5 separate regions of the Homo sapiens genome follow, and all the other regions are linked to region 2. The links come from fine-mapping of genetic effects on plasma protein levels. Region 2 holds a variant in brackets. A gene starts in each other region. All regions are shown on their reverse strands. Region 1 holds the start of APOF (apolipoprotein F). Region 2 overlaps LOC105371874 (a long non-coding RNA gene). Region 3 holds the start of CCL25 (C-C motif chemokine ligand 25). Region 4 holds the start of DKK4 (dickkopf Wnt signaling pathway inhibitor 4). Region 5 holds the start of LBP (lipopolysaccharide binding protein).

Evidence for each region. A credible set is the group of variants that fine-mapping cannot tell apart. PIP is the posterior inclusion probability: the model's chance that the variant is causal. The UK Biobank Pharma Proteomics Project read protein levels with antibody pairs (Olink). The fine-mapping took linkage between variants from a reference panel, not from the people measured, so its PIPs are less certain.
Region 1: APOF starts here. The variant in region 2 is the best candidate, but not a certain one, in a credible set for the plasma level of the APOF protein (UK Biobank, PIP 0.83).
Region 3: CCL25 starts here. The variant in region 2 is the best candidate, but not a certain one, in a credible set for the plasma level of the CCL25 protein (UK Biobank, PIP 0.85).
Region 4: it holds the start of DKK4, and the variant in region 2 is the best candidate, but not a certain one, in a credible set for the plasma level of the DKK4 protein (UK Biobank, PIP 0.55).
Region 5: LBP starts here. The variant in region 2 is the best candidate, but not a certain one, in a credible set for the plasma level of the LBP protein (UK Biobank, PIP 0.63).

Annotation. Positions count from the first base shown.
Region 1 is chr12:56,361,502-56,367,424 of GRCh38, reverse strand. APOF (apolipoprotein F) reads left to right here and starts at 4,568. Exons shown (of 2, transcript NM_001638.4): 1 at 4,568-4,695; 2 at 5,236-5,923. The coding sequence starts at 4,680.
Region 2 is chr17:68,824,508-68,830,879 of GRCh38, reverse strand. The region is part of intron 1 of LOC105371874 (a long non-coding RNA gene); the gene reads right to left. Among named protein-coding and RNA genes, the nearest start is that of ABCA8, 130 kb to the left of the region's middle. The variant C/T (reference allele first, on the strand shown) is at 3,216.
Region 3 is chr19:8,052,502-8,058,426 of GRCh38, reverse strand. It overlaps CCL25 (C-C motif chemokine ligand 25), which reads right to left and starts at 5,667. Exons shown (of 6, transcript NM_005624.4): 1 at 5,605-5,667; 2 at 5,305-5,427; 3 at 2,158-2,275; 4 at 1,928-2,061; 5 at 507-626. The coding sequence starts at 5,377.
Region 4 is chr8:42,374,608-42,380,979 of GRCh38, reverse strand. It overlaps DKK4 (dickkopf Wnt signaling pathway inhibitor 4), which reads left to right and starts at 3,751. Exons shown (of 4, transcript NM_014420.3): 1 at 3,751-4,045; 2 at 5,150-5,300; 3 at 6,067-6,219. The coding sequence starts at 3,935.
Region 5 is chr20:38,341,229-38,347,270 of GRCh38, reverse strand. LBP (lipopolysaccharide binding protein) reads right to left here and starts at 789. Exons shown (of 15, transcript NM_004139.5): 1 at 631-789. The coding sequence starts at 754. RefSeq lists enhancers at 2,736-3,513, 4,294-5,070.

The sequences.
Region 1 (5,923 bases), not on the chromosome of region 2:
GCCAGCCAGAGCTATGTTGTATTTAAATAAATATCGTTCTACATCTTCCTTTCTAGTTTTATGCCATTTATTTTTTATTCTTTCCACATTACACTGGTTAGAACTTCCAGTACAATGAGGAAAAACTGGTAAGAATGGATATTTCTGCTTTGTGATAGATCTTAGGAGACAAGGATTAAATCTTTCACTCCTTCTAGTGTTGCTACACAGAAACTATAGAGTCCTAGGAGGCTGGGTGCAGTGGCTCAGCACTCTGGGAGGCCTAGACAGGAGGATCCCTTGAGCCCAGGAGCTCGAGACCAGCCTGGCCAACATAGTGAGTTCCCTTCTCTACAAGAAAATTTTAAAAATTAGCCAGGTGTGGTGGTACGTGCCTGAAGTCCCAGATATATAGGAGTCCGAGGTGGGAGGATTGCTGGAGCTTGGGAGTTCAAGGCTGCAGTGAGCTGTGATTGTACCAACTGCACTCCAGCCTGGTATACGTGTATGTGTGTGTACGTATATTTTATCCATGTAGGTATATGTATATATATTGTCTTAGGGATTCCCCAGGGGTTTGGGGTCTAGTAATTTCAGACAGTGTTGGACTCCTTTCCACTTAGTTCTTGCTGTTTCTAAGTTGGCACTGTGTCCCTGGAGACTTACTCCTCTGCTTCTGTCTTTGCTCTTAGTTGTCAGGGGCCACTCCTGGGAACTGAAAGAACCGAAAAAAATAGAGGGAGGGACCCTGGACCCTGCCATTGGCCTAGTCCCTTTGGCCATGTGCCTGAGGTGAGTGACATCAGAGGAAACTTTAGGCCATAATGATATGTAGGAACTGGTACCATTTTTAGGAGGCATCAGATGTCTTATTTCCCTAATTTTTGGACTAATGTTACCCCTAAACCCAAGATAAAGCCTAATTCCTGGAGTTTTGGTTAGATTTGGAAAGTTACTGCTCAGCTGATGGACATGTTTTATTTGTGTTTTGCATTGGAATTAGAAAAGTGAAAAATAAACCAGGTGCAGTGGTTCATGCCTCTAATCACAGCACTTTGGGAGGCTGAGGTGGGAGGACTGCTTGAGACCAAGAGTTCAAGACCAGTCTGGGAAACATAGTGAAACCTCATCTCTACAAAAAAAAAAAAAAAAAATTTTAGCTAGGCATGGTGGTGCACACCAGTAGTCACAGCTACTTGAGAAGCTGAGGCAGGAGGATCTTTTGAACCCAGGAGTTAAACGCTGTGGTGAGCCATGATCAGGCCACTGTACTCCAGCCAGGGAGATAGAGCAATACCTGGACTGGACTCTAAAAAAGAAAAAAAAAGTTGCTCTGATTTTGTCTTATTTGTCAATCTGTCCAGTTTCCCTGGACTCCCATCCAGTATATTCTCTTTTTCAGACAAAGTCTCGCTCTGTCACCCAGTCTGGATGGTGCAGTGGTGTAATCATGGCTCACTGCAGCCTTGACCTCCCCAGGTTCAGGTGATCCTCCCACCTCAGCCTCCCCAGTAGCTGGGACTACAGGTGCATGCCACCACTCCTGGCTAATTTTTATAATTTTTGTAGAGACGGGGCTTTCGCCATGTTGCCTAGGCTGGTCTCAAACTTCTGGGCTCAAGCCATCTGCCTGCCTTGGCTTCCCAACCAATATATTCTTTTAATAAGAAAAATGGTGACCAGGCGCTGTGGCTGGCTCAAGCCTGTAATCCCAGCACTTTGGGAGGCCAAGGTGGGCAGATCACCTTAGGTCAGGGGTTCAAGATCAGCCTGGCCAACATGAAGAAACCCCGTCTCTACCAAAAATACAAAATTAGCCGGGAATGGTGGCACACGCCTGTAATCCCAGCTACTTGGGAGGCTGAGGCAGGAGAATCACTTGAACCTGGGAGGCGGAGGTTGCAGTGAGCTGAGATCGCGCCATTGCACTCCAGCCTGGTCAACAAGAGCGAAACTCCGTCTCAGAAAAAAAAAGAAAAGAAAAATGGTTTAGGGGTCCCAGAGATCACCAGCTATTCTGCCTTACCCTTTCTCCCCTCAAGAAGATACGGAGGACCTTTTCCTCAGCTCAAATATAGGTTTAGGGTAAAACCTTAGGATAGAAAAGATATGTCACTGGGTGCCGTGGCTCACGCCTGTAATCCCAACACTTTGGGAGGCCGAGGCAGGCAGATCATTCGAGGTCAGGAGTTTGAGACCAGCCTGACTGACATGGTGAAACTCCATCTCTACTAAAAATACAAAAACATTAGCTAGGCGTGGTGGCGCACACCTGTAGTCCCAGCTACTCGGGAGGCTGAGGCAAGAGAATCTCTTGAACCTGGGAAGTGGAGGTTGCAGTGAGCCAAGATCACGCCATTGCATTCCAGCCTGAGCAACAGAGTGAGACTGTCTCCAGAAAACAAAACAAAACAAAAATTTGCCAGGCATGGTGGTGCGTGCCTGTAATCCCAACTACTAGGGAGACTGAGACACAAGAATCGCTTGAACCCGGGATGTGGAGGTTGCAGTGAGCTGTGATCGTGCCACTGCACTCTACCCTGGGCAACAGAGTGAGACTGTGTCTCCAGAAAAAAAAAGGAAAAGAAAAAGAAAAAGAAAAAAAAAAAAAGATATGGGACAGGACTGCAGGGCCTAAAAGGGGAAAGGTCAGTTTGTCAGTATGGGTCAAAGGTGAGAAGGACAAAGTCTGGGCTGGGAAGAGATGCATAAATATTTGCAAATGTTTTGTCCTTCACTGTTTTGGAAGCCATCAACTTTCTGGTTTCCTTGTGATTCTGGGAAAGGGCAGATTAAAAACAGCAACAACAACAATAATAGTAATTCAGGTCATGAAGATACCAAAGCAAATGAGATGTTTGGACTGTTTTTTTCCTCTGACTTGTTTCTCCTCAAAATAGGAGGATCACCCACATCCTTTAAGAGTGAAGATGAGGTGTGCTCAGGGCAACCGAAGTTTCCAAGAGCTAAGACACTTTCTAGCTCTGGCCAGTCTTGGTGTCTCTTTGTCCTGAGCCTTTCTCCACTTCCCAACCTGAGCACTGCTTCCTTCCAGCAGGGCTGCTCTGCTGTCCCCCCATGGTCCAAGCTGTGCTGCTGCTTTGCTGTGTCCTGCTGTCCCTGGTGTCTGCCTTTCCAAGAAATGCTCAGAATGAGACTCTGACCCTCCAGCCATCTTTAACAGAGACTGGGCATCCATCAAACATGCTCTCCATTATTTGGAGAACATGGAGAGCCAGATTCCTCTCCCAGATCCCAGGATCTGCCAAGATCTCTTACACACAGCCCCCTCCCTAGCCCCTCTGCCTGAGTACCTGTCCAACTTAGCTCTGAGGGTGCCCTTGGAGGAGGTGGGCTGCCCAACTGAGGCCCATGTTCTGCAGTTTCAGATGCGAGGAAAGGATACCACTGAAACCCTCATCCGTGAGAGTCAAAAAGTTCAATGGGGAGGAAGGCAATACCAACATCATTGTGACGAATCTAGTAGTCCCTTAGGGAAGTGTGAATAAACCCAGCACCCAGCTGCCCATCCTGGGAAATGTATGGATGGTGGCAAATATACCCACTGGGGTAGCTGGCCTACCAGGTAGCTCAGATGGTGATTGAGTTTGCTGAGAAACCATCTCCCATGATGCTTGGTGTCACAGTTCAAAGTTTTGGGTGTCCACATCACCAAGAACTGCAGGTATGAGTCTTGGGAGCATATTGAAGAATTAGGCAAAAAGTTGAAGAAGCTCTCAAGATCATTTAAATTGTCCATGGACAGTGACAATATAATCTATCAAATGTTCCACAGCTATTCTGAAGTGCTTTGTGAGGAAAATGATCCAGGAATTGATCCCGGCTCATTTCAGCTATTCAATATCACATAAGTAATGAGTCTCCTTTCCCAGGACTGTATTCAAGGATGGCACACAGTAAGTAGTTAGAAATGTTGGAGACCACTTAGGACAGATGAATGCTCTTTATTTCACCTCTTCCCTTAAACACATATGTGACCAGTGTTAGCCTTGCCCCTCTCCACTTAGTAGGTGTCAGCTCCCCTCCTTTTTTTTTTTTAAGACGGAGTCTCACTCTGTCACCCAGGCTGGAGTGCAGTAGTGCGATCTTGGCTTACTGCAACCTCCACCTCCCGGGTTCAAGCAATTCTCCTGCCTCAGCCTCCTGAGTAGCTGGGACTACAGACGCCCACCACCACGCCTGGGTGTATATATATATATATATATATATATATTTTTTTTTTTTTAGTAGAGACAGGGTTTCACCATATTGGCCAGGCTGGTCTCGAACTCCTGACCTTGTGATCCGCCCGCCTTGGCCTCCCAAAGTGCTGGGATTACAGGCGTGAGCCACCATGCTCAGCCGCTAATTTAATTTTTAAAATGAAGAGAAATGAGAGTATCACAAACATCTCATCTTTCCTAATTCTGAATTTCCCTGGCTCCTATCATGAGCTTAGAGTGGGAATGTGGCAGGGACATACAGGAAATGCCAAAGAACAGGACTGTAGGCATAGAGGTTGAGTGTGTGACAAGGGGCACAAGGTTTGAGCAGCCAGTATAAATGGGCAAATATTTGCAGAGATTACATCCTTCACTGATCATAGGGGAAAGCAAATATCTCCTTTCCTCATGGGACACAGAACTAGGCAGAACAGGATCAGGAAGCGATCAAACCTACCAAGGCAGTCTCACTTCTCAATGACTGGACTGTGTGGTAATTTGGGGTCCCTATATATGGGTGGAAATAAAACAGAAGTCCCTGGTGACCTGTAAATGGGGGAGACCAAGTGGGAGCAACTGGGGTGCATTTCCTATTTCCTAGGCCTTTACCTAAAAAGAACAGAAGCTTGGGGCCAGGCGCGGTGGCTCACATCTGGAAGCCTATCACTTTGGGAGGCGGAGGTGGAAGGATCACTTGAGCCCAAAGTTCAGAACTAGGCTGGGCCAGATGGCAAAACCACGTCTCTACAAAAAATTTAAAAATTAGCTGGGCATGGTGTCACGCACCTGTAGTCCCAGCTGCTTGGGAGGCTGAGGCAGGAGGATCCCTCGAGCCCAGGAATTCAAGGCAGCAGTGATTTGTGATCCCATCACTGCACTCTAGTCTGGGCAACAGAGCAAGACCCTGTCTCTAAAAAGAAAGTACAAAAGCTTGGAAGCAGGTGATGTATGAGGTGTCCCCCTAACTGAGTCTTGGGCTCACCATCGCCCTTAGGGAAATGGTTTGTATGTTTCGGATTTCTCCCCTTTCTAGGGTACTCTGCTCCAGACATGCGTGGCCTCAGACTCATCATGATACCAGTTGAGCTGCTACTTTGCTACCTCCTGCTGCACCCTGTGGATGCCACTTCATATGGAAAGCAGACAAATGTCTTGATGCACTTTCCCTTGTCCTTGGAATCCCAGACACCCTCCTCAGACCCCTTGTCCTGCCAATTTCTGCACCCAAAGTCACTGCCTGGTTTCAGCCACATGGCCCCTCTACCCAAGTTCTTGGTAAGCCTGGCTCTAAGGAATGCCCTGGAGGAAGCTGGTTGTCAGGCTGATGTTTGGGCTCTACAGCTACAGCTCTACCGCCAGGGTGGTGTGAATGCTACACAGGTCCTCATCCAGCATCTTCGAGGGCTCCAGAAAGGCAGAAGCACAGAGAGGAACGTGTCAGTGGAAGCCCTGGCCTCTGCTCTGCAGCTGTTAGCCAGGGAGCAGCAAAGCACAGGAAGGGTCGGGCGCTCCCTCCCGACAGAGGACTGTGAGAATGAGAAGGAGCAAGCTGTGCACAATGTAGTCCAGCTGCTGCCAGGAGTGGGAACCTTCTACAACCTGGGCACAGCTTTGTATTATGCTACTCAAAACTGCCTGGGCAAGGCCAGGGAACGAGGCCGAGATGGGGCCATAGATCTGGGATATGACCTTCTGATGACCATGGCTGGGATGTCAGGGGG
Region 2 (6,372 bases):
AAGCCTGCAAAAGAAATTTAAAAGGGATGATCAGGGAGGGAAGGAGGAAAACTGGGAGAGTCAGGCACCCTCAACAGGCAGTTATTAGAGCAGGCTATATCAAACGTATCCAAGAGGTAAACAATCATAAGGAAACAGACTCCTAAGCCCTCAATTTCCTATGCATGCTTTGCTAAAATCACTAGATTTGAGGATGTTTCAATGATGAACGTGCAGATTCTTGCTTCCCAATGCTTCTTTTGTAACAACTCTTCTCCCACCTAATAAACTGCAGTCACTCCTCACCCCCTTATGAATCTTACCATTAGCATGGCTCTGGGTATAAAAACATCTGGAATGACACACAGTGAGATTACTAAAATGACAGTGTCCCTGTTGAGAAGGTGAATGATGCTAACAATTAGAAAACCATCGAGTCAAATGGTTTCTAATTTTCTCTTTCAGCCAAATTATAAGATAAACTAGTTGAATTGCCAGCTGATGCATCAGTTAAAAGAATTTTTAGTAATAGAATGCTTTGTGACTTTTGCCAAATATCTTGGGAGAAACATAAATAATTTAGTAACAGTACAATAACATTCTATTCCTATTTACTTATTTGTGTAAGTTAGTTTTCTCGATATTTAGGTATATATAAATGAAAAAAAGGAACAGATATTGTTCTAAGAGTTATCTTATTCCAGCAATTAGCAATATTCATTCATAAATAAGTGAACTAAAAGAAAAATAAACTTCAATTCACCTCATTAAGATACACATTTCCAATAAAATTTAATTTTAATGTTTAATATTTACATATTAACATTTATATGATATGCATGTTTTTGAGAAATTGTGAATAATAATTATAATGATAACCCAATACTGCAGAACGTTGGATCACATAGTCTTTTGGTAAAAGAAAATTTAAAATTAAATTTGTATCTTACTTTTTTTAAATGGAAAGATATCTTGGTGATATCCTTTGGGGGCTCACATAGAAGTAACTTTTATGTTTTTTTGCAGAACTGAGGATTTGAAAAGAACCAACCAAAATCTCAACGGTACAGGAATGCTCCTCCCCAAGAATGCTGTTATCTGCAAAGACTTTCAGTGCTCTTTACTTTTCAATTACCTTGCCATAAGGATCTTATCACACCTCTCTCCACGTTCTCTTCCAGCCAAATTATAACAGAAACTAGGTGAATAGCCAGGTGATACATCAATTAAAATAATTTTTGATAATAGAATGCTTGATGACTTTTGTCAAATATCTTGGGAGACAAGCAAATACATCTATTTTTGCTCAAATAAGAGGATTGTTTAGATCTCCAATAATTTAGAGCACGTTATTGATATAGTGCATTGCCATACATACCCTGGGGTCACAAGATTTTCCAGAGTATATGTGAGCATAAGAAGCTTTAAAGAACTCAACTTCCAGATACACAAACTCCTTTTGACCACTTTCCTTAAAAAGATGCTTGAGAAGGCATTTGTGGACTTCCAGTTCTTCTTTTCCACTTCCGTTTTTGCATTTTTTCTGGTTTACAAAAGAAAGGCATTCCTGGTACTGATTCTGAATCTTACTGTGGAACATTACTCCGAAAAATAATTAAAAAAAAAAAAAAAAGCAAGCGCTTTTGATCATTCCTGAGTGTGTGTTTTCTAAAAACAAACACTTTGTAAGAAAGGGTAAAAGGAAATACCCAAAGCTATCCCTAAGTAAAAAGAACAAAACTGGAGGAATCTCATTACCTGACTTCAAATTATACTACAGAGCTATAATAACCAAACCAGCAGGGGACTGGCATAAAAACAGACACGTAACAATGGAACTGAATAGAGAACCCAGAAACAAATCCACACACCTACAGTGAACTCATTTCCCACGAAGTTGCCAAGAATGTACACTGGGGAAAAGACTGTCTCTTCAATAAATGGTACTGGGAAAACTGGATATCTGTATGCAAAGCAATGAGACCAGACCCCCATCTCTCACCATATACAAAAATCAAATCAAAATGGATTAAAGACTTAAGTCTAGAACCGCAAACTATAAAACTACTACAAGAAAATCTTGGGGAAATTCTCTAGGACATTGGCTGGGCAAAGATTTCTTGGCAACACCCCACAAGCACAGGCAACCAAAGCAAACATGGACAAATGGGATCATATCAAGTTAAAAAGCTTCTGCACAGCAAAGCAAACAATCAACAAAGTGAAAGAGAGCCCACAGAATGGGAGAAAATATTTGCAAACTACCCCTCCGACAAGATATTAATAGCCAGAATATATAAGGAGCTCAAACAACTCTATAGGAAAAAATCTAATAATCCCATCCAAAAAATGGGCAAAAGATTTGGATAGACATTTCTTGAAAGAAGACATACAAATGGCAAACAGGCATATGAAAAGATGCTCAACATCACTGATCATCAGAGAAATGCAAACCAGAGCTACGATGAGCTATCATCTCATTCCAGTTAAAATGACTTATATCCAAAAGACAAGCTTTGTACATTTTTGGTAGAAATGTAAATTAGTACAACTATGGAGAACAGTTTTGAGGTTCCTCAAAAAACTAAGAATTGAGCTACCATATAACCCAGCAATCCTACTGCTGGGTATATACCGAAAACAAAGGAAATCAGTATATTGAAGAGACATCTGCACACCTTATTTGTTGCAGCACTGTTTACAATAGCTAAGATTTGGAAGCAACTTAAATGTCTGTGAACAGAGGAATGGATAAAGAAAATGTGGTACATATACACAATGGAGTTCTATTCCGCCATTAAAAAAAAAAAGAAAGAAAGAAAGAATGAGATCCAGTCATATGTAACAACATAGATGGAACTGGAGATCATTATGTTAAGTGAAATGAGCCAGGCACAAAAACATAAACATTGCATGTTCTCACTTACTTGTGGGATCTAAAAATAAAAACAATTGAACTCATGGACATAGAGGGTAGAAAGGTGGTTACAGGCTGAGCGGGGTTGCTCAGGCCTGTAATCCCAGGACGTTGGGAGGCCGAGGCGGGCAGATCACGAGGTCAAGAACTCGAGACCATCCTGGCCAATATGGTAAAACCCCGTCTCTACTAAAAATACAAAAATTGGCCGGGCCCAGTGGCTCACGCCTGTAATCCCGGCACTTTGGGAGGCCGAGGCGGGCGGATCACGAGATCAGGAGATCGAGACCATCCTGGCTAACACGGTGAAACCCCGTCT[C/T]TACTAAAAAATACAGAAAATTAGCCGGGCGTGGTGGCAGGCGCCTGTAGTCCCAGCTACTCAGGAGGCTGAGGCAGGAGAATGGCGTGAACCCGGGAGGCGGAGATTGCAGTTAGCCAAGATTGCGCCTCTGCACTCTAGCCTGGCAGCAAAGCGAGACTTCGTCCAAAAAAAAAAAAGGTTGTTACCAGCCTGGGAAGAGTAGTGGAGGGATATAGGGGGAGATGGGGATAGTTAATGGGTACAAAAATAATAAAACAAAAGAATAAATCCTACTCTTTGATAGCATAATAGGGCGACTATAGTCAATGATAACTGAATTGCATATTTTAAAATAAAGAATGTAACTGGATTGTTTGTAACACAAAGGATAAATGCATGAGGGGATAGATACCCCATTCTCCATGATGTGCTTATTTCACATTGCATGCCTGTATCAAAATATCTCATGTACCCTGTATTAGTTCGTTTTTATGCTGCTGATAAAGACATACCCGAGACTGGGCAATTTACAAAAGAAACAGGTTTATTGGACTTACAGTTCCACATGGGGAGGCCTCACAATCATGGAGGAAGCCAAGGAGGAGCAAGTCACATCTTATGTGGATGGCAGCTGGCAAAGAGAGCTTGTGCAGAGAAACTCCCGTTTTTAAAACCATCAGATCTCGTGAGACCCATTCACCATCATGAGACCAGCACAGGAAAGCCCCGCCCCCGTGATTCAATCATCTCCCATCGGATCCCTCTCACAACACGTAGGAGTTATGGGAGATACAAGATGAGATTTGGGTGGGGACACAGAGACAAACTATATACCCCATAAATATATATACCTACTATGTACTCACAAAAACTTCAAAAGATAATTTAAAAAAAATAAGTAAAATTAAAGGCATTGTGATGAATGCCAAAAAAAAAAAAAAAAAAAGAGTAAAAGGGAAAAAGACAGCACCTTAGTATATCCAGGGAACGAATTCATGAGAAGGTTTTGTGCTATGGCTATACATCTGTCTGTCTTTCCATGCATTAGAATTTGGAGGTGAGAAGTTTGTGACAGAGATGTGTATTAAAATGTTTATCTTAATTAAAATGAAGCCAGTTTTTTTTTCTGACAGAAAAAATATGCTTCCCTGCATGGTTGATTTTTACTGTGAAGACTGGTTTTGCCAGTTAGATTATATGGCAGATATTTTTCCATACATTAGATATGTATAAATATGCAACTCTAAGATTCTGAGGGAAACACACACGCACAAACACACACACACACACACACACAGTGCTGAAATTCAGGTAGTATACGAATATACAAAGATTTAAACTTAAGAAGAAAATTTTCGATGTCAACTTAAAAATGTATGAAAGGTCGTGAAGGCAGCAGAATAATGATTATTGCAGGTGTGATCTACTGATGAATGCTGAAATTAGTGGCCAAAGACTTAAGAAGAAACAGTATATTTGTATAACATCCAAGAAACTCCCCATAGTCTGAATTAACTACAGTGGATTAAATTCCTTGAGACTCCTCCCTTCAAGAGAGGAAGTCTAATTCCTTCTTCCTGGGTGAGGGTAGGATTTAATAACTTGCTCCTAATGAATAGAGTGTGAACAGGAGAAAGTGCTGCCTTTATAGTGGAGAAATCTGGCAGAAACGCCTTAACCAAGTGACCAGGGTTAATATCACCAGTAATAAGTCATGCTAACATTGTATACACTCTTTACACACATTGTGTATGCTGGAATCAGAAACACTATTTTCCTCTATGGTAGAACTTTTCCCCAAACTCCATAACACCAGCCCAATCATAAGAAAATTTTGGATTAACCCAAATTGAGGGGTATCTTATAAAATACCTGAGTAGCATTCTTCAAAAGTGTCAAAGTCATGAAAAACAAGGAGACTGAGAAACTGTCACACATTGGAAGAGACTAAGGAGGCATGATGACTAAATGCAAAATTGTAGGTCCTAGATTAAATCCTGGGACAGAAAAAAGGACATCAGTGAAAAAAACTGGTGAAATCAGAATAAAGTGCAGTTTTGTACCAATGTGAATTTTTTAGTTTTGACAAATGGACGATGGTTATATAATATGTTCACGTGAGGGGAAGCTGGGGAAAATGTTCATCAGTATTCTCAGTACTATCTTGGCCACTCTTCTTTGAGTGCGAAATAATTTCAAATTTAGAAGTGTTTTAAAAAATACTATAACCCGTCGGGCACAGTGGCTCATGCTGGTAATCCCAGCACTTTGGGAGGCCAAGGTGGGAGGATCATGAGGTCAGGACATCGAGACCATTCTGGCCAACATGGTGAAACCCCGTCTCTACTAAAAATACAAAAATTAGCTGGGCATGGTGGCACATGCTTGTAATCCCAGCTACTCAGGAGGCCAAGGCAAGAGAATCACTTGAACCAGGGAGTCAGAGATTGCAGTGAGCCGAGATCACACCACTGCACTCCAGCCTGGCAACAGAGCAAGACTCCGTCTCAAAAAAAAAAAAATAAAATACTATGACCAATTAAATGACAGCAAAATGAATGTGTGAGAGGGCATATAGTTTTCCAAAATGTAATGAGTATGAAAGGAATAATAGTTGAACCTCCCTGTCCTGGAAACAAAAGTAAAGAGTCAGTGTTTCGTTATGTCAAATGCTAGTGATAGAGCAAGTGAGGTGATGAAAATGGATTAACTGATCCGCTGAAAATGGATGAATGGATTGAGCAATAATAGAAAGGTCATCAGTAACCTTAACAAGAGCAATGTTGATGGATTGCAGTGCGGAATCCTGGAAGTGAGATCAAAAGAGCATGGGAACAGAAGATAGGAAAACAATACAGACAGCTATTTCAATGATTCTTTTCTGTAAAGGGGCACAGAGAAAAGGCATTGGTGCTGGAAGGGATTTGCATGTTCAAGAAAGAGTTTTATTTAAAGTGAGAGAAATTACAGCATGTTTGACTGTATGATAATAAGAATGGTCTAGCCTGGCATGGTGGCTAACACCTGTAATCCCAGCACTTTGGGAGGCTGAGGCAGGCAGATCATGAGGTCAGGAGTTGACCAACATGGTGAAACCCCGTCTCTACTAAAAATACAAAAATTAGCCAGGCATGGTGGCACACGCCTATAATCCCAGATAGGAGGCTGAGGCAGG
Region 3 (5,925 bases), not on the chromosome of region 2:
TTATATATTATATATATTTATATATTATATATTTACTTATATATTATATATATTTATATATTATATATTTACTTATATATATTATATATATTTATATATTATATATTTACTTATATATTATATATGTTTATATATTATATATTTACTTATATATATTTTATATGTATATATAGAGAGAGACACACACACACAATGTCAGAATTCAGTAGAATTACAGGACAACCACCCGGTCCCTGCTGGAGAATTGCTGGCTTTGGGGGGCCCTGGAGCTCTTGGGCCACTCCCCTGGGGCTTTACTTTCTCACTTGCTGTGGTGTCTTTGCGCTGAGTCACAGCAGTGGACAGCCACCGAGGACCCTCCCCTGTGAATCTGCGGCACTGACCGCACAACCACCTCTCCTGGGTCCTGGAGGTGAATCTCCTGTCCCAGTGTGAGCCAATCACGAGCCCTCAACCCTCAGCAAAGGTGATGGATGGGAGACAGTCACATGACCAAGAGTCCTTACCTGAATTAGCTGATATCAGGAGGGAGACATTCCTCTTACTGCTGCTGATGGGATTGCTAAACTTGGACGATGATAACTTGGAGTTTCCAGAACTCAACTTCTTTACAGCATGAGGGCCTGCTGGAGAAATGGAGAGAGAAATAAGCAAGAGCTCTGCCATCATCCTTTGAGCTCCTGGATCCAGCTGAGCCTGAAGCTGTTGACTGGTTATTTAAGCCAATGAGTCTCCCATGTGCTTGAGCTTTCCATCTGTACCAGTGGAAAGTGTCCTGATTAAAAGAGCTGGACTGGCTGGGTGCAGTGGCTCATGCCTGTAGTCCCAGCACTTTGGGAGGCCAAGGCAGGTGGATTGCTTGAGTCCAGGGGTTCAAGTCCAGCCTGGGCAACATGGCACAACCTGTCTCTGCAAAATGAAAATAAAAAATTACCCAGGCATGGTGGTGTGTGCCTGTAATCCCAGCTACTTGGGAGGCTGACGTGGGAGGATTGCTTGAGCCCAGGAACACAAGGCTGCAGTGAGATGTGATTGTGCCACTGCACTCCAGCCTGGGTGACAAGAGTAAAACCCTGTCTCAAAATAATAATAATAATAATGAGCTGGAGCCAGGCATGGTGGTTCATGCCTATAATCCCAGTGCTTTGGGAGGCCAAGGCGGGCAGATCATCTGAGGTCAGGAGTTCGAGACCAGCCTGGCCAACATGGTGAAACCCCGTCTCTACTAAAAATACAAAAATTAGCCAGGCGTGGTGGCGTGGGCCTGTGCTCCTGCTACTTAGGGGGCTGAGGCGGGAGAATCGCTTGAATTCAGGAGGCAGAGGTTGCAGTGAGCCGAGATCGTGCCACTGCACTCCAGCCTGGATGACACAGCAAGACTCCATCTCAAAAAATAAAAATAAAAAATAAAATAACAATGAGCTGGATTAGTGGAGCATGCCTGTAGTCCCAGCTACTCAGGAGGCTGAGGTAGGAGGATTGCTTGAGCCTGGGAGGTCAAGGCTTCAGTGAGCTGTGATGGCGCCATTGCACTCCAGCGTGGGTGACACAGTAAGACTCTGTCTCAAAATAATAATAAAAGAGCTGGACTGGTGGCACACACTTGTAATCCCAGCTACTTGGGGAATCTGAAGTGGGAGGATTGCTTGAACCCACAAGTTTGAGGCCGCAGTGAGCTATGATCATGCTACTGCACTCCAGCCTGGGCAACAGAGCAAGACCCCATCTCCAGAAACAAAAACTGGACAATGACTCAATCAGTTGGTCATTCACTTGGTGCCCCACTCACCAGCAACTGGCTTTGTTTGGGGTTCAGGCAGGTGTCAGTATTCTGGTCTCCAATTCCCTCCCTCGGGGTCTGAACCACACATGGGCTTGCAGGCAGGGAGGGCAGGCCCCCTAGATGCCCAGCAGAGGTCTTGCCCACCTTGGAAGGTCTGCGTGTTGTGGTGGAGCTTTGCAAAAACCTTATTTCGAGCATCCAGGAGCTTCATGGCTCTCTGCACCTCCCTGCTTTTGGGGTTCCCACACACCTTCCTGTGTCTCTTGGGGAGGTAGAATCTGTGGTGAGCAGAGGGGGGTGCCCAGGTTAGGGTGTAGGCTGGCAGCAAGGCTGTGTGTGCACCCCACCCCCCCAGCCCCCACGGCCCCACTCACATCGCAGCAGGCAGATTGCAGCTCCCGCTCACCTCCTGGATCCGGTAAGTCCAGGCGCGCCGGAGCACAGCCCACCCAATGGGGTAGTGGTAGGCCAGGCAGCAGTCCTCAAAGACACCTGCAACCACACAGCCGCCCAGATACTCGCACCCTTGCATGTTAACTTGGCAGGGCCAGCCACAGGCAAGGGCACCTGTCTGCATACCTGTCTGCTCATACCACAACCCTTCCAGGCCCGGCAGAGGCTGAGGAACAGCCTTAGGAAAGAAAAAGCCTCCTGGCTCACCCCTTATCCCTGGATATTGGGACAGCCAGAGGTTGGAGAGGACCCTTGGGTCCCGGCTGGGAAGGGTGTGGAACCAGCAAATGAACGGACCAAGGCCACCTCTACTCCTGCTCTGGGGAAAAGGGTGACTCGGAGTGCAGGTGCACTGTGAGGAGGGGCCAACACCACCCCTCCCCAGCCAAGTTCTTCCCTCCTAAAAATGAGCTGATTGGCAGCTCAGCACAGTGGCTCATGCCTGTAAACCCAGCACTTTGGGAGGCTGAGGTGGGTGGATCACCTGAGGTCAGGAGTTTGAGACTAGCCTGGCCAATATGGTGAAACCCCGTCTCTACTAAAAAATATAAAAATTAGGCCGGGCGCGGTGGCTCATGCCTTTAATCCCAGCACTTTGGGAGGCCAAGGTGGGCGGATCACGAGGTCAGGAGATTGAGACCATCCTGGCTAACACGGTGAAACCCCGTCTCTACTAAAAATATAAAAATTAGCCGGGTGTGGTGGTGGGCGCCTGGAGTCCCAGCTACTCGGGAGGCTGAGGCAGGAGAATGGCGTGAACCCGGGAGGCAGAGCTTGCAGTGAGCCGAGATCGCGCCACTGCACTCCAGCCTGGGCGACAGAGTGAGACACCGTCTCAAAACAAAACAAAACAAAAAACAAAAATTAGCCAGGCATGGTGGTGGGCGCCTTTTTTTTTTTTTTTTCCAGAGTCTCACTCTGTCACCCAGGCTGGAGTGCAGTGGCTCAATTTCAGCTCACTGCAACCTCTGCCTCCCGGGTTCAAGCGATTCTCCTGCCTCAGCCTCCCGAGTAGCTGGGATTACAGGCGCCCGCCACCACGACCAGCTAATTTTTGTATTTTTAGTAGAGACGGGGTTTCACCATGTTGGCCAGGATGGTCTTGATCTCTTGACCTTGTGATCCACCCGCCTTGGCCTCTCAAAGTGCTGGGATTACAGGCGTGAGCCACTGTGCCTGGCTGATAGTGGGCGCTTTTAATCCCAGCTACTCTGGAGGCTGAGGCAGGAGAATCACTTGAACCCAGGAGGTGGAGGTTGCAGTGAGCCGAGATCACGCCATTGCACTCCAGCCTGGGCGACAATAGCAAAACTCTGTCTCAATGAAACAAAACAAAACACCAACCAAACAAACAAAAAATTGTTTTAATACAAAGTAAAGAGCTCTCAGTAAATGTCAATGTCTAGACAAGCAGAGATGAAACACACAGATGAATTAGACCTAGTGTTGTCTTCAGGGAGCTCCCGGGAAACTGATCTCTGCAGAAAGGGGGAAGCACAGGCACTGTGGGGGGTGCCCAGAGGAGGAGGAGGTGATGCCAGAAAGTTCTGGGGGGATGAGCAGGTGGAATGAATGAGCCGAGGATGAGCTGATGAGATAGTGGAGGAAGCTGGGGTGCAATTCTCTGCCTAAATGGCCTTTGGAGTTCTCTGCAATCTCACCTCTGCCAGAACTAACCTCCAGAGGCCGAGTCTGAGTCCCTGCAGAGCCCAGCCCAGCAGGAGCAGGGAAAGGGAGGACTCGAGCCCTCCAGGTGTCTCCCAACCGCGGCCTCTGAGGGCAAGGGGCAGCGCATTCTGTTGGAACCTCGGACTGCAGTGCCAGGCAGGTAGTTCCCAAGGCTGGAGGCCAGGATCGAAGGGCTGGGCTGGGCCTGGCTCTGATAGCAAAACAATCAGACCACAGCCCAACCCCCTTCCCAGGCAAAGGCCAAGGACTTGGACCCATCAGACCCAGCCGAGGGGCAGGTGGGTCAGGTGGGGGCAGACAGGGAAGGAGGGTGGGACCCTGGGTCTGCCGCCCAGCCAGGGACCCTGCTTTGGCCAGCTGCTGAAACTCAGAGGATGTAGGACCCAGTGTCAGGGCTCCCGTGGGGACACCCCAGGCCCAGGAATTGTCCTTTGGCGACTGAAATCCTCAAGTGCTTGCTCTGCGGTAGGGAGTGGGGAAGAAGGAAAGAGTTCCCTATTAATAACAGGAACAGTTACTATTGCCGCCGCCAGACATGAGGCCTAGTCTTTTGCAGGCATGAGCTCACTGGACCCTCAAGTCAGAGCCATGCAGTGGGAATTTTAGATTCCCACTTTGCAGCTGAGGAAACGGAGGCTCCTAAAGGTTTAGGAAGCCGGGCACAGTGGCTCAAACCTGTAATCCTAGCACTTTGGGAGGCTGAGGCAGGCGGATCGCCTGAGATCAGGAGATCGAGACTACTCTGGCCAACATAGTGAAACCCCATCTCTACTAAAAAATACAAAAATTAGCCGGGCATGGTACACACGCCTGTAGTCCCAGCTACTTGGGAGGCTGAGGCAGAAGGATCGCTTGAGCCCAGGAGGCGGAGGTTGCAGTGAGCCAAGATCGCGCCACTGCACTCCAGCCAGGGTGACAGAGTGAGACTCTGTCTCAAAAAAAAAAAAAAAAAAATGGTTTAGGAGCAACTAACTCTCAGCTGGACTGCATGGAGGGACCAGGATGGGAATCCACTCTTGTCAGTCTCCAGGGCCCTGATCTCCAACCCCACCCCTGGCTCGGCAGGATTAGGATTCTACAATACATCCCTGGCAGTAACTGGCTTTGCCCACAGCTGGAAGCCACCCTCTGCTCCCTCACATCTTTAGGAGTCTTGCAAAAGACTCCATGGGGCTCTCGAAGAAGGAACTGGGGACTCTCCATCTCCCCGACCCCATCCCAAGAGCTAACCAAACACCAGGAGTTCCTGCATGTCAGGAGCGGGAGAATTCAGTGGAGATGGGATTGGGGAGACTTCCGGAGGAGATAAGAGACAAAAGGGGTGGGGTGGGGGCATGGGGAGAGGGGCACTTGGTGGTAGGCATTGCCGAACACAGTACCTTGGGTGTGGACAGCGGGGGCCCAGGCTCCCAGGAAGCCGGCCACCAGGCAGGCCAGGAGCCACAGGTTCATGCTGCAGGCGGGTCCTCCTCCCTGGGCACCTGGACGAATAACGGGGCCACCTGGGGTCGTGGAGGGAAGTGGTAAGGACTGAGGAAGAGGAGGGGAGTGGGTACTGGGAACATCCCCCCTCTTAAGCCCCAGGCATATGGCAAGGGAAGGAGGTTGTATAAAGTAGGAACAAGTTGTGCTGGAGGGAAAAGCTGTTCATCTCAGTCATGTTCAAGGAAAAGACTCACCGATATCCACTGGGTCAAGGGAGCTGATGCCCGCCGGGCTGTAGGCCAAGCTGTCCCATCTGCAGGACCAACACGCTGAGCTTCACTCTTTATAGACAGAGCCCCACCCAGCCACCCCCTGCCCGCCCTCCTCCCTTCCTCCTCCTCTCCACCTGCACTCTCAGCCTCTGGAATTCTCCCTCTTCTACAGCAAGCTCCAACCTCGACCCACAGGCCCCCTTGCCTCCCCACTCCCCATCCCAGGCCTCCCAGCCAGCACCCCTACTGTCTCCAGAAAGGGCCTTTTCCCCTGTTTCCCTCACCTGCACACACCTGGTGGAC
Region 4 (6,372 bases), not on the chromosome of region 2:
CAGTGTCTTTCTTTTTCTTTCTCTTTCTTTCGTTTGTTCGTTCTTTCCTTCTTTCTTTTTCTTTCTTTCTCTCATTTTCTTTCTCTTTCTCTCTCTTTCTTTCTCCTTCCTTTCTCTCTCCTTCCTTTTTTCATTTATTTTTTCCTCCCTTCCTTCCTTCCTTCCTTCCTTCCTTTTCTTTTTCTTTCTTCCTTTCTCTCACATTCTTCCTCTTTCTCTCTCTCTCTCTCTCTTTCCACTCTCTCCTTCCTTCCTTTTTTCCTCCCTTCCTCCCTCCCTTTTTTCTTTTCTTTTCTTTTCTTTCTCTTTCTTCCTTTCTTCCTTCCTTTCTCTCACTTTCTTTCCTCTTTCTTTCTTTCTCTTTTTCTTTCTCCTTCCCTTCTCTCTCCTTCCTTCCTTTCGTTTGTCTTCCTTTCATTTTTTCTTCCTTCCTTCCTTTCACCCTTCCTTCCTCTCTTTTTTCTTTTCTTTTCTTCCTTCCTTTCTCTCTCTCTCTCCCCCTCCCTCCCTCTCTCCTTCCCTCCCTTCCTTCCTTCCTCTCTCTCTTCTTCTTTCCCTTCTTTCTTTTCTTTCTTTTTTCCTTCCTTCCTTTCTTTCTTTCTCTGTCTCTCTTTCTCTCTTTCCCTCCCTCCCTCCCTTCCTTCTTGTTGGTGGGAGGACAGGGTCTCGCTCTGTCACCCAGGCTTGAGTGCAGGGATAGGATCATGCAGCCTTGACCTCCTAGGCTCAAGCAATCCTCTTGCCTCAGCCTCCTGAATAGCTAGGACTGCAGACACGTGCCACCACACCAGGGTAATTTTTGTATTTTTCGTAGAGATGGGTTCTTGTTATGTTGCCCAGGCTGCTCTTGAACTCCTGGCTTCAAGTGATCCTCCCATCTCACCTTCCCAAGTAACAGAGACTACAGGCAAGTGCTGGCATGCCCAGGTTTTTTATTTTTTGTGGAGACAGGGTCTTGCTATGTTGTTCAGGCTGCTCCCTGGCCTCAAGTGGTCCTCTTGCTTTATCCTCCTCACGAAGTGCTGGGTACAAGCATGAGCCACTGCACCCAGCGGATCATGGCATTCTCAGTCTGATATATCTCCAATGACTTTACATTGTGCAGAGAATAGAATCTGATTTTCTTAGCATGGCATATCAGGGTCTGCATCTTGCTTCATCTCATCCTTCCATCATCTGCCGCAGCCACACAATCTCTCACTAGCACCTGAGTGCACCTCCTCCCTCTTGCACACACCTCACCCTCTGAGCCCAGGTGAGGATATCTCCGACTTCCCAACTTAGGAAGCCCCTATGCAACCAACAAAATTCAGCTCAAATATTACCTCATCTGTAAACACATTCCTTTATTTCTCTAGAAAGTCTAAATCATGCCTTCGTCTGTATTTATATCTTCATAAGTCCTCCACCCTTATATTTATACCTTTATTTTAGTGCTTGTCATAATACATTGAAATCATCCATATGTACATGTCTTCTATCTGGATCTCTCTCTCTCTCTGTGTCACCCAGGCTCTGTCATCCATACATACAAGTTTTCTGTCTGAATCTTTCTCTCTCTCTCTCTCTCTCTCTCTCTCTCTCTCTCTCTCTCTCTCTCTATATATATATATATATATATATATATAGGCTTAATCTCCTGGGCTTAAATGATTCTCCCACCTCAGCTTCCTGAGTTGCTGAAACTACAGGTGAACACCACTATGACTGGCTAATTTTTTTTTTTTTTGAGATGGAGTCTCACTCTGTTGCCGAGGCTGGAGTGCAGTGGCACCGTGTTGGCTCACTGCAACCTCGGTCTCCTAGGTTCAAACAATTCTCCTGCCTCAGCCTCCCGAGTAGCTGGGATTACAGGTGACCACCACCACGCCCGACTAGTTTTTATATTTTTAGTAGAGACAGGGTTTCACCATATTGGCCAGGCTGGTCTCGAACTCCTGACCTCAGGTGATCCATCCACCTCAGCCTCCCAAAGTGGTGAGATTACAGGCGTCAGCCACCGCACGCGGCCTACTTTTTTTTTTTTTTTTTTTTTTGTGGAGACAGGATCTCAATATGTTGCCCAGGCTCGTCTTGAACTCCTGAGCTCAGGAGATCTTCCCACCTTGGCCTCCCAAAGTGCTGGGATTACAGGTGTGAGCCACTGTGCCCGGCCATTGGAGTTTCAAATTTTATTCCTAACATGTAATCCGAGGCTCTGTTCCATGCCAAGTGCTCTAAGTGCTCAGTGGCTGTTTGTGCCGTGTTACAGGAGTTCCCGTCAGTTCTTTCGCCTGTGTATATTGCCAGGGGCCTTTGGTAACCTGAAATTCCCTTACAGTGAGGCAGCAGGAAGCAGAGAAACCCGGCAGAGACAGAACCCTGGGGGCTCTTTCCTTTATCCTTGGTCATAATTGTACAACTTGAAAATAAATTCTGTAACACCCCTAGTCACCAGGGTTATCATGCTATCAAAGGGTGTTGTTTGATGTCAGTTTAAGGGATTAAAACAAGTAACTTCCATACGAGAGGTAGACAAGCAATACCAACCCAAGGACAAGGGCCAAGTAGTAGGAAGGCTCGAATCACCTGCATCACCCTCGGAATGGCACTGCATTACTCAAAATTGAGAATGTTCCCATGCACAGAATGCTGAGATTCATGTCAATGAATTGATGTTAGGTTGTTCTGCAGGAAAATGTAGTAAATAATAAGATTATCATTTATGGCATAGAAAAAATGCATTTTAGATGACTCTATGCTAAGAGCAATGAAACAATGAAGAGAAAAAATGATTTTTTGATCCAGATCTAGATTGTTCTACCCTTAAAGTATTTAAGACAGTGATAAGCACATGTCTAAATTACCTGACTAATAGTCCAAATGGAAAAAAATCAGACAGGAAAGGGATGAAGCAGAAGTTTTAAAAAATTCGTATTAGGAAAATTGGAAATACATGAAATTTCATCTGAAATCAGCCAGAGACTTGGATCCTTGTTCTGCTTAAGTGAGTTTTACATAATGCAACACAAATTAAATATGTTGCTGATAAAATGGACCCAAAGCTTCGTACTGAATTGTGTAAAATGCGCTATCATTGTTCCCACCATTGAAAAATGGGATTTTCATAAATTACATTATTTTCCTAATAACCCTAACTTCAAACAGTTCAATTTTCATTTAAAGGAAAGTAATTTCCCAAATGGCATTTAGTCAGAACAGGTGCTGTTACGTTCACAACTTTTAAGCGGTTGGGATTTTGACATCTGGATGCCAGAGCTAATCAGGGGGCGTTTTCTCTTTTTCTATCTGTCCTCACTATCTGAAGCCCAGTTTACAGCTTCTCAGTGTATTTTGTACCTCATTAGTTTTTGGCATCCTCTATAGCATATTGGCCAGTATGATTCATCCTTTCTTTGAGCACAATTAGCTGTGAAAACAGATCTTAGGGCAGACTCCCTCCCTACCCCCAAAGGATTACTGAAGGTAGGAAATGCAGGTGATTATCAGAGTTTGCCTTTGATACAGACATCCTGCTCTGCCGTGGCCCTTTGAACTAACTTTGATATGCAATAATTAAGAGGGATTGAACCCCTGGAGGAGAAGCCGCATGGCCCTGCCTCTTCTCTCCTTCTATTGAGTCCTTGTTTTGAACTATTGATCAAACAGATTTGAAGGGATTTGTTGAAGCCTGTGTGGGGCAGGAGGAAGGAACGGAGCGGGGAGGAGGCACATCTGGTTATAAATAGTTTCAGGAGGAACCTGCTGGTCAGACTTTGCTCAGCCGATTTCACGCACCTTACTCAGACTAAGGTTTACTTCTTTCAGAAAAAGCAGTGACAAACAGACGACGTGCTGAGCTGCCAGCTTAGTGGAAGCTCTGCTCTGGGTGGAGAGCAGCCTCGCTTTGGTGACGCACAGTGCTGGGACCCTCCAGGAGCCCCGGGATTGAAGGATGGTGGCGGCCGTCCTGCTGGGGCTGAGCTGGCTCTGCTCTCCCCTGGGAGCTCTGGTCCTGGACTTCAACAACATCAGGAGCTCTGCTGACCTGCATGGGGCCCGGAAGGTAAGGCTGCTAGGGAGGGGGGCGAGGTACGGGACTGCTGACAGCTGGGGTGTTTTGTTTAGGCTTTAGTAAGTCATTCTGATTCATGTATGAAATGTCTTACCTAGCAGGTAAATTGAATTGGTTTCGGATTTGGGAGGGCATCCTGGTAGGATCAGTGGCCTTAGTGTGAATGTATGAAATAAACACAGTGGCTTTTCACATCATTCGGCCATACGTTTGTCTATAAATCACGAAATAAACGAACACTTTGGAAGCTCTACTATGTGCCAGCTCTTTTACATGTAATACGTCATGTACTCTTCCTCACAATTTGAGATAGGTGAAACATTCCCTAATTCCAGATGAGGAAATAAGACTCAGAGATGTTGAAGAGCTTACCCAAGCTCACACAGCCAGCAAGCAAACATGGGAATGAGAATTTAAACAGAGGGCCATGATGCATTGCCTTGTCACCATCTAACTTCACAGAGAGAGTTGTTTTAGGAATCGCTTTATGTATGTGTATATGTTATTATATATCGTATAGATTATTACATATATCATATATGCTACACCTACGTTGTATGTCTATGTAGAAGCATCAACTGTGTATGAGAACAATTGATCTTCGGTATCTCTTTCTCTATGTCAATGAGGCATCATTGAAAATCAAAGGACAGTTCACTTAGGGAAGGGTCTCTAAGCTAAATGTGATTCACTAGAGTAAAAAATCAAATAGGAATGCCACAAACATCAATAGTATGTTTAATGAAACTGTAGCCAGCTTCTAGAGTTAAGATATATTGAAAATCTCATACTCACCTGTTAAGACACACATAGGAAAACATTTTTTCCCATTTTCACAAAGAGCACAGGAAAACTAAATTCTGAGTTAAGTCAATTTTTCAAACTCAAATAGCCTTTGCAGCGCCTAGGTCTCCCCGGGTGACATGAGCTTCCCTTTGTGGGAGAAAACCATTTCCACTGGAGAGTAAGATGCTGCCCAGGGTTTGTCACAGCGCCACTGTCCTTTGGCTCCCTCCGCCTCCTGCCTTCAATAATAAGTCATCTTCCATCGTGTTGGGGGTTTCCTAGCCTTGTGATAACAGATTCCCTCCACAGGGCTCACAGTGCCTGTCTGACACGGACTGCAATACCAGAAAGTTCTGCCTCCAGCCCCGCGATGAGAAGCCGTTCTGTGCTACATGTCGTGGGTTGCGGAGGAGGTGCCAGCGAGATGCCATGTGCTGCCCTGGGACACTCTGTGTGAACGGTGAGCGACATAACGCCAACAGTGGTTTTTAAACCGAAGGTAGTGTCTAAGCCCCATAGACTAGAATATTCCAGGGTAGGCACTCTCTAATGGTGCTTCCTAGATTCATGCTTGAAGTAAATGTATGCAGCTGCCTTTTCTTTTCCTTTTTTTTTTTTTTCTGAGGCGGAGTTTCGCCCTTGTTGTCCACAGCTCACTGCAGCCTCGGCCTCCGGGTTCAGGTGGTTCTCCTGCCTCAGCCTCTGGAGTAACTAGGACTACAGGCATGTACCACCATGCCCGGCTAATTTTTGTTATTTTTAGTAGAGATAGGGTTTCACCATGTTGGTCAGGCTAGTCTCGAACTTCTGACCTCAGGTGATCCACCTACCTCGGCCTCCCAAAGTGCTGGGATTACAAGCGTAAGCCACCGGACCCGGCTTGCCTTTTCTTAATGAAACAAAATAATTTATTTCCTGGCAACAGCTCTTGCCAATGACTTGGAGATAATGATTTTAAAGGAAAGACTCAAGTTGTAATCATTCAAATACTTCCATTTCCACTTGGATACCATTAACTACCTTTAATGGAATGCAATTTCCACTTAGCTACTTTCTCTGCCACATGCGAGCATGTAAATATTTAGCACATGTTCCAGAAATCTAGAAAGTTATATATAAACTGAAGGCAGAGGTGCTGCCAAACTATGCAACAGTAGGATAATTAGTGTGTCTGTGGTTCTCCCCCTTGAAGTTAATAATTCTAGTTACACCTGGTTGTCCCTCAGATGTTTGTACTACGATGGAAGATGCAACCCCAATATTAGAAAGGCAGCTTGATGAGCAAGATGGCACACATGCAGAAGGAACAACTGGGCACCCAGTCCAGGAAAACCAACCCAAAAGGAAGCCAAGTATTAAGAAATCACAAGGCAGGAAGGGTAAGAACAGCATTCGCAGCATATTTTATTTCAGAAATGCATTTTCTCCTCCCAGCCTCTTAAGGATAGGGTGAGACTGATTTTATTCTTCTCCATCCCAGAAACACTTAGGAAGCATGTGCTGTTTGTTATCTCTTTCTGTAAGAAGCTGTG
Region 5 (6,042 bases), not on the chromosome of region 2:
TGCCTGGCCTGCCCATTCTTTAAAATTGAGGAATAATATACATAAAGTACCTAACGGGCACAAATTTTAAAGGTATTGCTAAATAATTTTTAATGTTTATACAGGAATGTGATCACCACCTGGATCAAGATATGGCAACTTCCAGCACCCCGGCAGACCTCCCTCATGCCCTTCAGGGTCTCTGCCTGCCTCTAGAGGTGACCACAATTCTGACTTCCAGTTCAGAGGCATGTGTTTCCAAACTTTACGCAGAATTTTCCCAGCTGAGTGGTTCCCATCATCAGAGGTGGTGGCTGGTTTAATTGCACACTCTCTCCTGGCTGCCCTCCCTTCCTCATCTCAGTACCGATTCCCTACAGTGTTTCCTGGAATCATTTCCCAAATCAACTACTTGCACGCAAAGCTGTGTTCTGTTGGCTGGTGGAGGACCTCACTACCACAAATAACATGCCCAGGGCACTCAGCTGGTGGGCAGTAAGGCCAGAATAGGAGCCAGAGCCACCTGACCCAGAAGGTGGCACTGCCCCAGGGAGAGGGTCCGGTCTGTGTCCCCACTCCCTGTCCCCACTGTACCCAGAGCAGCCTGGAGCGTGGGTTTGCCAAGTCCAGCCAGCAGATGTGGCTTCTTACCATACTGCAGTCCCTTGTCGGTGATCCTGGCGACCAAGCCGGGGTTGGCACCCAGAGCCTCTGGGGTGGACGTAAGCAGCAATGCCAGCAGTATGGACGGCAGGGCTCTGGCCAAGGCCCCCATCCTAGATTCCCAGTGCAGTGGGCCAGGACTGTCCCAGCTGTGGATTGGGCCCAGGTCCCTTAAGTAGCCAAGGCTCGATGGCTGGGGGCAGTTCCTGAGGCTGGATGGGTTCCTGGGAGCGGGAAGGGGAGGCACAGGGACTGGAACCTGCTTGCGACATCACTGAAGTCATAAGGTCATACTTAGAAGCCAGTTTTCACTGCCCAGATCAGTGGATGAGGAAGCCTGACTCCTATGATCATCCCTGTCCACCCTCCCCACAGAAAGACCCCATATTCATCACTGTTCATCTTGCCTCATCTCAGCCAGTCTCTTAAGAGCTCGGCTAGGAAGGCCTGGTTTAGCAGATGAGGAAACTGAGGTTCAAAAAAGCCACATAGCTCCCTTGAGATCTCACCCCCAGCAGAGGGCAGGGTTGAGAGTGAAGCTACATCTGGCACCAACCAAACTCTCTTTTTTAAAATATATTGGCTCGTTTATTTAAAAAATAAATGTTTCCCCCAATGGGAAAACAGTGTTTCTCAAACCTTGCTGGTGGTGAAATTTTCTGGAAGGCAATTGGCAAATGTTTAAACAGTTGCATGCCCTGTGACCCAGGAATTCAATTTCAGGGACTTGCCCTTAAATACATAATTGAGTCAGTGTGCCAGTAAATCACTGCTCCAAGATACCACTGCTATGCTGTGGGAAACAGGACAGGAGAAGTGAGACCCAACCTCATGTATCCACCAGAAGGGCATTGGTTAAATGAATTATGACATGCCCCTTAAAGTGAGGCTGCAGAAATAAAGGTATTTCTTGGCAAGGAAAGGGATGTCATGAGGCATCCGTTTCCGATGGCACCATAGAGTAAGGTTCTATTTTGGGGGGTTCAAAATAGGCTTCTATGTTCAACAATCTGGAAAATATTTAGCAAGGAGTCATGAGGCATTGTCTCTGGTTGTGGGGGTAGAATTATAAGTGTTAAAAAAGTTTTTGCTTGTTGATACGTACAATTTTTTTTTCTTTTTTCATTTTTTGAGACAAAGTCTACTCTGTTGCTCAAGCAGGAGTCCAGTGGCATGAACATCGCTCGCTGCAACCTCAACTTCCTGGGCTCAAGTGATCCTCCCACCACAGCCCCCTAAGTAGCTGGGACTACAGGTGTGAGCCACCATGTCCAGCTAATTTTTTGTATTTTAGTAGGGACGAGGTCTTGCTATGTTGCCCAGGCTGGTGTCGAACTCCTGAGCTCAAGTAAGCCTCCCGCTTGGCCTTCCAAAATACTGGGATTATAGACTTGGGCCACCATGCCCAGCCTCTAAAATTTTTATTTTCTTGGGGGTATGGTCCCGGGCATATATTCGCAGTAAGTAAAGATAGTAAAATTTCATTCTGGAAAACAAAATTTATAGTACAGACTGTGTTTAATTTTTAGAGTTTTGCCCCAGCCCTGCTTACATTTGTGAGTTCTGCTTTGCCCTCACCCCCAGGAAGCCTTCCCTGACCACTCCCATGCTTCTCTGGATTCTAGAAAGGGTCCCCTCTGAGGTCCCAGAACCCTTTGCGCTTTCCCCACCACAGCATTAACCACTCTGCTTTTTGATAATTGTGGTCCTTTAAAAATATGCCCACGAATTCTTTGATATTCCTTCCATCAAAAGGTAATGTTTCTGCCCCCTTCCCTTGAAATTGGGCAGGTTTTCATGATGGCCTCAACCAACTGAATGTGGTGGGATTAACAGGGTGACTCCCAATAGGTCACAAACAGCACTGGCAGGCACTGAGGTTAAGATCAGAATGTCCCACGTTAAGCACAGGGAACCCCACAGTCCAGGCCTCTCTGCTCCTCTGTACCGTGTTGCTCCTGTCACTGGGGCTGAGGTTTGTTGGGATCCTCATCCGTCCCTCCCCTCAGTCCCCACACCACCAGTCTGATGGCTCCTTGCAGGCACGGCTGAGTCTTCCATTTCCTGAGATCCTTGCAGCACCCAGCAGAAATTGGAAAGAAACTGATATTTATTGAGCACCTACTATGTGCAGGCGCTGTGCTGGTTAAGCTGCACGTCTCCTCTCATCCTTGCATCAGCAACCCCAGGTGGATATTTTAGTCTTGTCTTGAGATGAAGAAACTGAGGTTTGGCAGGGTGAAGTGATGTAGGCTGCAGTCACCCAGCAGGAATTTAAGTCCAGGTCTGCAGGATGCCATTCCAAAACTCTGGTCAGGGCAGGGTTCTCTTGGGAGGCAACAAGCTGAGCAGAGGCCTCAGGGTAAGGAGCCAGCCTTTGGGAGGCTTTGGAGCAGGAAAGGGCTCACAGGTGCATCCCCAGTGTGCCTAGGGGCCTTTGCTTCCTGGACCTCAGCCTGCCCAGGAGGGGAGGAGAGTGGGGGAGGACATTCTGGAGCATAAGGATCTTATGGGGACATAGATGTCACTCTTCCTCTGGCAGCAGTTTAAGGATGTCCCTGGCTGGGAGTCATTTGCAGGGGTGGGAATTTCCCACAGCAGCAATCTTTGGACCTTAGAGCTGCCACATGGCCCAGGCCTGGCCTCCACCCCTGCAGGTGCCCACTGCTGGCTAAGGTCCCTGCTGATGGCCCAGGACCCAGCAGAGGCCTCAGGGAGCAGCACGACCCCACTGCTGGTCAGAACCCCTGGGCCTTTCTCCTACCAGGCTGTCCATCCAATTCCACAAAAGCAACAGCTGCTACCACTCTGGCCACCACTCAGTCTTATTGCAGTGAAATAGGGACTCTTTTAACAAGGCTGTTTATTGTGTTCTTGTGCAGGAGAGGGCCCCCAGAAATGGCAGTGCATCAAATGATGGACAGGCGATCATAAAACTGTCCCTCTGACATGATAAGTGGCCACGAATGGCGCCAAGAGGGAGAGGAGTTCCCTAACAGATAGTTGACATCATCTGGAGCCAGCAAACCACAATTCCCTGGTAAGGTCGAGCAGAAGGGCAAATGTTGGAGTCTGACTTGTATATGACCTTTTTCTTGCGGCGACGGACCAGTAAGGGAAAATCACCCCAAGTGAGCATGCGCACAACCTTAGTAAACACACTGCGCATGCGGCCCCTCCCAAGTGCTGGCAGGCCATTGCGCATGCAGGGAGGGCGCAGCAGCCCACCGAAGGGAGGAATCAAGGAGGAGAAGAAACCCCAGAACCAAGCCAGTGTATAAAAGCCCCGAGCCAAAGGTTGAGCGGGGCACTTGATCTCTCAGTTGTACTTTGCTTCTTTCAATAAACCTTTGCCTCTGCTTTAAAACTTGCCTGCGTCTCTCAATTGAATTCTTTCCTCTGAGAAGACAAGGGCTGGGAGTGTTGCGGACTCGCCACCGATAATATTCTCACTACAAAAGTGTTACTGAAAAGATTTTGAAAAACCCAGAATTTGGAATCCATAGTGTCTAGAATACTGAGCAGCAAATAGTAGATAATTGCCAAAGGAATAAACAAACCTTATGTTTATCTTTATGGACTCTGGGGCCAGATGGCCTGGATTTGAATCCTGACTCCCCCACGGGGTGACTTTGGGCACTTTGTGACTCAGTTTCCTCATCTCTACTTGGGTTCAGCCAGAGGGTGGCATGGCAGGAGGTCAGATGTCAGGGCACTTTTCCCTGCTGTCTTCTCTAGATCACAAGTGTGGCAGTTGGCTGTGTCCCTCCTGATAAGGCCTTGTCCTTGGCTCCTATTATCTCCTTGGGCTGGGATACCCAGATGCTTTTCTTTGCTGCTTGAGCCTTAGGAAAAACAGTCCCTGGTTGGTTTCCTCAAGCTTGTCCCCCAACTCTAGAAATAGCCACTTTATTCAAATCCCAAGAACCAATGCAGTTGGATTCTCTTTTCTTGCCTGAACCCTGTTGGACACAATTAGCAACACTGAGCATTTCTTCTGCACTTATTCATCTTTTGTGCAAACGCCTGCCTCTCGCAGAGAGCTTTGAATCCTTTTCCAAAGTCTTACAGGTTTTTTGTCAAGGCCCTGCTCCTAATGGGCTGGGGGACCTGGAACAAACTCCACCCCTCTCTGTTCCTCATGTTTCCCCCAAATGCAGATGAGGGCTGGGGACTAGGACAGCTTTTCAGAAACAAAGACGTGCAGTCAAGTCCCCCAGGGATCTTGTTTAGATGCAAATCTTGATCCATCATGTTCCTCTTGGGGCTGAGCCTCTGCATTTTAACAAGCTCCCTGGTGAGGGTGATGCTGCTGACCACGGATTGTGCTTGGAGCTTCGGGAACAAGGGACTAAATGAGCTCCGAGTTCCCTCCAAGCTCAGCAGTTCTCTAATGCTTCACTCTCCTTTTCGATAGTTTTCTATGACGGTGCCCACACTCCTGAGAACACTGACTCTTGAAAGAGAATGATGTTATGAATTCCTGCAGTTCTGAATCTCTGCAGGGTACTTTGGAGTTGGGAGTTTAATATTTATGGCAGCCTCTCCCCAAGCCACATCACCTGCAGATCTGAATGTGTGCCTGTGTACGCACACGCACAGACACACACACATGAGCCCTGAGACATGCGGGCTTACAAAATAAAAGTAGTAACGTCAGTGACGATCCTTTGTGGCTTGAAGGTTGCGTGTCTTGAGATACCAGGAGCCCCCATGGAGCAGGGCTGGTCATGTGGATAAACAGCTCCTCACCCCAGAGAGCCCTTACTTTTACAGATGGGGAAACTGAGACCTAGAGAGGGAGAACTGGCCCAGGTTACACTGTGAGCCTATTGCTGAACTGGAGAGGATAAATCCAGAGTTCTGGCCAGCCAGGGGCTCTGATTCTTGGGGTCAGGCCCATTCAGGCAGACAGCCCTGGATCATACATTGAGAATCACTGGCATAAATGTTTTGAGTTATGCAGATGTGGGTTGAAATCCCAGATCATTTTTAAAATAAATACTTACTGATCACCAACTATGTGGCAGGCATTGGGAATACTACTGTAGCCAGATATAGTATTTTTTTTGTTTTTTTTTTTTTGAGACAGAGTCTCACTCCATCACCCAGGCTGGATGGAGTGCAGTGGTGTGATCTCAGCACACTGCAACCTCCGCCTTCTGGGTTCAAATGATACTCGTGCGTCAGCCTCCTGAGTAGCTGGGACTACAGGTGTGTGCCACCACGCCCGGCTAATTTTTGTGTTTTTAGTGGAGACTGGGTTTCGCCATGTTGCCCAGGCTGGTCTCGAACTCCTGGGCTCAAGTGATCCACCTGCCTCAGACTTCCAAAGTGCTGGGATTACAGGTCGTGAGCCACTGCACCTGGTCAGATATAGTCTTTACAGTATAGTAAGAA